Linked DNA regions of Homo sapiens: region 1 is linked to region 2. Evidence: fine-mapped expression QTL. Tissue or cell type: whole blood. Region 2 holds a variant in brackets; the other region holds the start of a gene. Each region is shown on its reference strand, or each on the opposite one.

Region 1 (4,403 bases), not on the chromosome of region 2:
TTGCAGTTCACCATAACTACTCCTGGTGGTCCCTCAGCAGAAACCAGCTGGCCACAGAGTATGGGAATGGAGGCTAGAACTTGCGAGCTGAGAAGACACAAGTTGGAGTTCCAGCAATACCACAGTCTAAGTCTGTGATCTTGAAGAAGCTATATCAGCTTCTTGGATATCAGTTCCCTCCATCTCTAAAATAATGACATTAAACCTAGATGAACAAATTCTGCAATTCTGTAACTGCTCACTGAAAAGCTGAGACTACTCTAGCCAACTTTCATATTTCAAGGACTTCACCTTTTAAATTCCTGCAGAAATGGAACCAACTCAAGAACTTTAGTCAGCATGGCGGGTCCCTTGTGAAAAATAATATCAGCACTTAGCAATGCAGTGCAATTTGAGAGTCACTGGAAAAATCTTTAGTCCTCAAATTTCTCCTTCCATGAGAAGTTACTTTTTAAGTTAATATTTATTTTGTCTAACTTCCCCCTTTTAAAATGCAGATACCTTGTGAAAGGATAGTATTTTTCTCCAGTCTCGGGCTGAGTGTCTTCTTCCTTATACCTGGGCTCTCAATTATATCACTTACAAACTCCAGAAAGAACTGGCTCCCACACTTTCCCCACCCTTCCTAGAATCTCTTTTTTTTTTCTTTTTTTTTTTTTTTTGAGGTGGAGTTTCACTCTTGTTGCCCAGACTAGAGTGCAATGGCACGATCTCAGCTCACCCCAACCTCTGCCTCCCTGGTTCAAATGATCCTCCTGCCTCAGCCTCCCAAGTAGCTGGGATTACAGACATGTGCCACCATGCCTGGCTAATTTTGTAATTTTAGTAGAGACAGGGGTTCTCCATGTTGGTCAGGCTGGTCTCGAACTCCCGACCTCAGGTGATCCGCCAGCCTCGGCCTCCCAAAGTGCTGGGATTACAGGAGTGAGCCACCGTACCTGGCCAAATCTCTTTATTTTTCTATCAGCCCCTTTATTCTGTGCTCATACTACATTCAAACATATCTCTAAGCTTAATGCCAACCTTCTTTGATGCTTCTGCCTCTTCTGTAGTCTACTTTTTATTCTTTTGGTGTTACCATATTTAGAGATAGAATAGGAATCAGCAAAGAGACAAGTGGTTGAAGAATTAAAATGAGGACCAGAATGGTACTGTATCCTGGCCAACCAAGGAAGAAGAGAATTTCAAGAAGGAAGGGTTATCAGCATCGTCAAATTCAGAAAGTAAAGAAGATGAGGACGACTAAGACTGCTAGCTTCAGAAACCAACTGGAGGCTGGCCAGTGTCCTCCTTATTACCAAATCTAAACATCTTTGCTGTCAGTGGTGGAGGAGATTTGGAGTGGTTAATCAAATCTCAAAATAGAAATGGCCCCAGTTTTCAGAATGTAGACTAAGAAAAGCAAGCTTCCTGTGAACCCTTTGAAAAGTCTGATTGACCCCTTGCCTCAACTCTGATGTGGGAAGGTGGTGAAAGATCAACAAACCAACACATCTGTCTTTTAGATACAGTAACAAGAGCAACACCTTACACCTCTTCTTCTTTAGCTTATTTTATTAGAATGCAATATTATTCCTCCATTTATAATTTTTAAAACTTGAGGTTCAGATAGGGTTTAAAGTACGTCTCAAGTCTTACATCCCCCTAATACAGTGCTCCTGAAAAGATTTCTGCTGAAAACACCTCCAAGCTTTTGTCTCTGTTTTATCCTTCTAATCCTGCACTCCTTAAAGGGCCAAACCACCAGCCTTTCCTCCAAGCTTCCCCAAGGGTTTAGTAGTCCACCGACCTTTGGTAGTTGAGGAAGAGCAGAAGACTCTATGATGATATCTGGGATAGTTTCTCAAAGAAGAAAACTGCCTTGATCTATGTAGTCCTGGTTCCTCCCCAGATCAGAGTTTATCATAATACCCTGAAGTTGACTGGTAATTGCTCCACCAAAGAGTCCCTGAATTTCAGCCATGTGGTTGGCTGGTCAAGGACGGTTGATGGAAATAGATGGGCAGAAACTTTTGACGGGCCCAATGAATGATTAACAGCAGAAATAAAGCAGCACTGTTTACCTAAGCTCCTTCCTCTTTGCTAGTCCTCATTCTTCGTAACATGTCGCAATCGTTTATTTTCTCCTCTGCCAACCATTTCCCCTAAGTGGAAAGGTAATTTGAATTTGAAGCCAGAATTCTTTTTTCTTTTCATAAACACATAAGGGTTATGGCAAGACACAGTCCAGCTAGCCTGGAAACCTTGGATACTGCGAGGTTCAGAGAGCCTCCGCAAAAATGATCCACTTTCCATGACACTAGGTCCAGTATGCTTTCCTGGAGTTTGAAAACTGATATTCTTGCCCAGAGCTCGTCTCTATCCCACCCCAAGGAATTACAAAAGGTGGGGAATTTATCAAACATGCATTGGGTTTCCACTATGTGCTGAGTTATCTAGAACGTATTTGGAGTTCAGCAAATGTTAACTGCTACTACATGTCAGGCACCAGAGGGCCTCCAAAAATTGATCTATCCAGTGCGCTCAGAAGAACGCAATGAAGGACCGGCCATGTTTCCTCTCGCATAGATCTAAAAAGACCACAAGCACTTACATAGTCCAATTAAGCTACTAATCCTCAAGGTTAAGATTTGTGTGCTCAGAAGATTGCTATTAAAAGGCAATTCTTTCTGAGAACTTCACTTTTTCTGTAATAAATACTGAAAGTCCCAGAAGAGTTTCAGAAAAGGAACTAAACTACAACAGGTTGAGTTAATCAAGGAAGTTTCTACAGAAGATGTGAGATTTGGATAAAAGGTAGAAATTATTAGATAAAAGTGGTAAGGATATTAGATGTAAAGAAACCATGCGCTAGGTCACCAAGGTGAGACACTGATTTGACCAGAATGAAGATAGAGGAGGATTCCAGATTGCACAGTCTTGAGACTAAATTGGAAGAAATATCACCTTTAAAGCTGCTATTTCTTTAAAGTACCGTTTTCCAATGTATTGAAGTCCTTTCGTTTACTTTCCACAGTGACTCTTGCAGATTTTTCTCTCCAGGTCACCAAATTGTCACATTCCCTCTCAGCAGATGCTCTTACCTCCTACTTTACTAAAAATCATTCTACCTTAGCTTCATCAATGTCAAATTTTCCCTCCTATTCACTCCTCATTCCGAGGAGAATTGTTTCTTCTTTTCCTGCCTCATTTTCAATGCATCTCTCATCCTGAAATGTCCCTTCAATTTTGCCAATACCTCAAATTCCACCTTTCTTCTTTAGTGTGATGCTGAACTTCTCAAAGGTGTGACTTGTTCTACCTGCCTGTTCTTTCTCATTCATCACTCCACCTGTTGCTTTCCCATCTGGCTTCTACCACTCTTCTACTGACATGTCTCTCTGAGGCACGCCCTTAGGTCCAAGTCCAAAATATCTTTAATTCATTTCTTAGGATCTGTCTGCAGCCTTTGTCACTGCTGATCATTTCCTTTCTGAAACTCTCTTCTCCTTTGGCTTCCATGACACTAAACTTACCTGATTCCCTTAACTTAACTAATTTCTCTTTCTTAGTTACTGTTACCTTCTCTTCCTCCTTCTCATTCCTAAATATAGATATATCTCAGGCTCTTCTTTTTTTAAAAAAATTATCTTCGCAATTTTAATGATCTTGCCTTCTGTCACAGCTTTAACTATTACCAGTAAGAAGACTAGCCAGCACTACATTATTATTTCTGATTACTCTCCGAAACTCAAGACTTACTTTCTTAGGTTTTGTTTTTTTTTTCCCCCCACTGGACATCTTGCAAGCACTTCACCCTCAGCACATCCAAAGAGGAATTTCTCATTTCCGGCCAACAAGCTTCACTTTCTGACCCCAGCTTTTTCTGACCTCTGGTTCTCGGGAATAAAATTTCAGATTCACTTTTGAACTCTTCCTCTCCCTCACCCTTCAATGTTTGATTAGTTGACAGGTTGTTTTGATACAAGTTTTCAATATCTCTCGTGTCTGCTGCTGCTTTTTCATTTCTGCTGCCACCAAACCAGTTCAGGTTGATAATGCCTCCCATATGGACTATTGTAGGAGTCCTTTCGTTGGTTTCTCTTAGTTCTTTTCCCTCATCAACCAATACTACAACCAACATTGTGAGAGAAATCTTTCTTTATGTTCTGTCCTTATTACTTCATTGTTTGCAAGGCTTCCATGTCTTCATGGTCTGACTGCCAAAAAACAAATGTATATTCTCTGCCTACCAAAAACAAGTGTATATTCTCTAGCACGTCATTCAAAAGCCTCCATAAACTGGCTTTGACTTATCTTTCCAGCCACCTTCTCTCTCACCAATTTCCATGCTTCATCTAGGCCAGTCCAGGCTATGTGCAAGTTCCTAAACATATCCCATTTTTTCTGCCTCTGTGCAATGC
Region 2 (4,403 bases):
GATGTTAGAAATATAAAGGAACCAAACTAAAACTATGGTTCTGAATTGAAATCGAAGCTATCTGTAGATTTGTCCATATTATCACCTATGTGTAGGTATTTATACAATGATATGCCCTAGCTCTGTCTCCAAGAAATAGTAGAAACAGCAACATTCAATAGCAATGAGTACACCTAGATCCAGCTCTTGGTTTTGCAATACCATTTCCACCAAATGGGAACCATGGATCTTTGGAATAATGGTTGATTTCAAAGCTAGAACAGAGAAAATATGACATGAGCTTGGAATAGTTTGCTGTGATAAAGTAAGAAAGTTGTTAAGGTTTGAAAAGGAACACATTAAAAGGACACAGAAGAAAACTTGAAGAGGGTCCCACTGTTCAAATCTAGAAGAATTTAAACATTAAAATACATCAGTATAGTAATGGATTGTAATCCACTGAATTTAATAGGGAACCAATAGTTCATAGTGATATAGACAATAAATAAGTGAACAAATTATAACTTTAATGAGGCATGGGATATTTGCATAGTCTCTCAAAGCAGCTACCCATAAAACCCTCAATTAAAAAGGAAAAAAACAATTTTACAGTGAAGAAACATGACACTTACCACTTTAAGCAATCAAAGTCAACATCACTAGTAATGAAACAAATCGAAACTGTGTTTCACTTGATAGGACACAGCAAGACAAATCACAGCACAGCAAATCATGAGGAGACACCAGGCAAATCCAAATTGGGAGAAATTCCTAAAACACCTGGCCTGTATTCTTCAAACCTGTCAAGAACATGAAAGTCAAGGAGATACTGAGTAACTTTTTCAGGTTGAAGAAGACTAAAGAGAAATTATAACTAAAAGCAATGCATGTTTCTAAACTTGATCCCTTTGCTATAAAGGATATTTTGGACCAAATGACGATACTTGAATTGGGTTTGTGGATTGAATGGCAGTCATATAACAATTTTAGTTTTGTATTTTGATAGACTTATGGAATATGTTTTTGGGTAATTTATTTGTTTTTAGAAAATGTACTCTAGTTTGGGATAGATTGAGCATTATGTCCACAACCTGCCATCAATGATTTGAAGGTACAAACTTTTTAGTAGTGTTCTTGAAACTTATCTCTAAATTTGAGATTGTTTCCAGAAAACATTACTGTAAAAAGAAAGAATATGATCAATTTGGAAAAGTGCACATGGGTCTATATGTTTGTAATGTAAGATACATGAAGAAATAAATATAAGGTACATATTAGGTTTTGAAAAAATAGTGGGAGGTAAAGCTAGAGCTGTATTACAAAGAACCAAATGATTCTTATGTTTGACATTTTAGGATTTTATGGAAAGGAATGTCATGATCTTTCCATAAAGGATGGCATTTTAGAAAACAGCATTCCTGTAGCTTAACAGAAGATAGAAGGAAGAGGGTGGAGACACTTTAAACAGACAGAGTGACTATTTACAAAGCAAGTTAGAGGCAGACCGGGACTCAGGAAGAGATGCTTCAGATTTTGTGTCCATTGCATACATATTACAATTACAAGCCAGCAAGAACGGTTGGAGGGAATGGGTTAATTCTAAACCAAATTGTAATGGGACAAGGAACAACTGGGAGATAAAGAGTGGCAGATTTGGCAATCATGTATCATAATAGACACCTTGGATTTTTAGTTTTTTAATATACCCAGATCATTCCTAAATCATTCAGAGAAGCACAGCTCTATTGCCAAACATGCAAGGCTGTCCTACTGCCTCAGGCCGGCATGTCACCAGGCAGGCAGAACTGAAGCTGAGAGCCTATGGTTGGGACATTCTGACAAGAGTTGGGGAAAGAATGTTTCAGGTATCTGGTGGTACTTGTGACATTTGTGGGAGGTCTTGGGACCATACCAGCGAGGGCTCAGGATGGCAGATGTTTAATGCCACTCCATAGAGGCAGGTTCTGGAGAGGAGAGATGTGCATCGGAGTCTAGGGAACAGAGCTGAGGTTGGATGTCAACAGCAAACCATTGGGAGGGTCTTAGCAGACAAAGAAGGGAGAGCACATGAGGGCCAGTGACAGTGCAGTCAGAGGTGAGATGATATGCAAGCTGGTCCAATGGACACACCCCCCAACCTGTTATGTGGCTGCCCCTCCTGCTCTCTGTGGCGTCCTGAGCTAATCAGGCAGGAATGGAGACAGGCTGAGCAGAAACAGAGCTTCTCTGTTCCAAGAATGTCCTGGGCCTTTCAGAGGCATTATTGTGCTTAATACTTGCACTAGCCCACCAGGTGGTTATTTAGACTTCATTTATACATAGTAAACCTGAGGCTAGGCGCAGAAGCACAGTACTTAATTCAGTGGGAATCCAATGCTGTCTGACTCCAAAGCCCTAGAACTTGCTTCTGCAGCCCTG[G/T]CACTTGGCTCAGATCTACTTACAAGCAAGAAAGCTTGTAGAGTGATGCCCAGGACAATGGCAGAATATGTTCCTTCCATAAAGCTGTCAGAATTATAAAATTCAAGATGATGGAGAATCTTCGTATTTTTACCAGTAATCAATGGTGTATCCTAGAATTTTAGAATTCCAGGACTGGCTGAACTTAGTTGCCAATTTATCATTTTTATTTTTAACTGGTTTGCAAATTGTAGCACACGTAATTGAGGCAACTTCACAATGAGGACATTGGATATTAAAGCTCATGGAGGATCTATTAACTTTTTTTTATTATACTTTAAGTTTTAGGGTACATGTGCACAAGCTGAATGAAATGAAGTTTTAGTTACTTCCTATCAATGCTGTTCTCTCTCCTTCATGAATCTATTGCTTCACAGAAAATGTCTTAAAAGACAGAAAACAAAACAACAATAACGAAAAAACACAACCCCTGTCATCTGTTTTAAAACAGTTCTTATAATAATGATAGTTTACAAACTTGTGTGACTTTCAGATCATAATAAAGCATAATAAGTACTGACTATGCTTGTAATAGTTTAACAATTTAAAAATCATTTTAGTGACTATTTTATCATCATCTAAAATATAATCTCTCACTATGGCTACAAAAATAGATGGCAGCTGGTTTGCACATTACTATGATTTTGTGATATTGTTATTTGAATTAATTTGATCATCAGAGTTTTGGACACTGAATGGATTTTAGGTGCACTAAATGAATACATTGAAAATATAGTCAGTGTGACTGGTTTTGCTTTAACTTGAGGGACTTTGATTTGCACTTAAAACCACTTGGCTTCTTCACTCTTTTGTTGGACTTGCTTTTCATGGTCAAGGAACACCCTTTGTAACACTGGTTACACAACCGCCCTCCTGTGTGTTAGGCACAGAAAGTACTCACTACTCCTCTGTCCCACAATGTCCTAGGCACTTGATATTGTCAATCTTTAAGCTTCTTGCCACTGTAATATAATTGTGGCTTTGATTGGAATTCCCCTGCTTACTAATGAGATTGAGCATCTTTTTCATATTTTATTTTTCTCTTGCATGAAGTACCCATTGAAGTAATTTGTTCACTTCTCCATCGAATTGTCTTTTTTGTATCTATATATTGGGACTCTTTTATATGTTTTAAAAAATACTTGCTCAGTGATCTGTGTTGTAAATATTTTATTCCGATGTGTATCATCTTTTCACGTCTTCATTGTACCTCAATTTTCAGACCAATTGGTTAATCATTTCTGCGAATGTGTTTTTCGACTCTTTAAGAAAGTTTTCCCTATACATGGTAATAGTCTACTACATTGCCTTTCAAAACTTTTATAGTTTTGCTTTTAACATTTATGTCATAAATTTACCTTGAAACGATTTTAGTGTATTATGTGAGATAGGAATCCTAGTTCATTTTCTTCCCTATGTAAAAGTAATTGTTGCTGTCCATTTTCCCATGTTCTTCAATGCTAGCTGTCATAACTGGGTTTCTATTTTTTTGTTAAGTCTGTTTCTGGGTACTCTATTCTGTAAGTATATTTGTTTATCTCTATACAAATAAAACATATCTCAATGATCATATTTTTATAGTATGTCTTGATATGTGATAATGTCCATCCTTCCAATGTATTCTTCCCTTCAGCAATGCTCATTTTTGACTGTTGGCTCTTACATATAAATTTTAGAGCTAGCTTGATGTAACCAATTACCTGCTGGAAATTTGGATTTTTCTTGAATAGAAGGATGAATTTGAAGATAATTAACATCTTAATATATTAAGTCTTCCTATACAGATATCTAATTTTTTTGTTTAGGTCTTCTAAATTTGTACATCTATTAATATTATGTTTATTCCTAGGTAATTACAATTTTGGTTTCTATTGTAAATTTCATATTACTTAATATTAAATTTCCACACTGTAAATACTTTTGGCTGAGGTATACAAATGCAATTAACTTTTCTCTATTTATTTTGT

The links. PIP is the estimated chance that this variant, and not a neighbour inherited with it, causes the effect.
Region 1: it holds the start of C4BPA, and the variant in region 2 is the best candidate, but not a certain one, in a credible set for the expression of C4BPA in whole blood (TOPMed, PIP 0.53).

Annotation. Positions count from the first base shown.
Region 1 is chr1:207,101,817-207,106,219 of GRCh38, reverse strand. It overlaps C4BPA (complement component 4 binding protein alpha), which reads right to left and starts at 1,987. Exons shown (of 12, transcript NM_000715.4): 1 at 1,790-1,987.
Region 2 is chr7:50,249,696-50,254,098 of GRCh38, reverse strand. No RefSeq gene overlaps it. Among named protein-coding and RNA genes, the nearest start is that of IKZF1, 53 kb to the left of the region's middle. The variant G/T (reference allele first, on the strand shown) is at 2,398.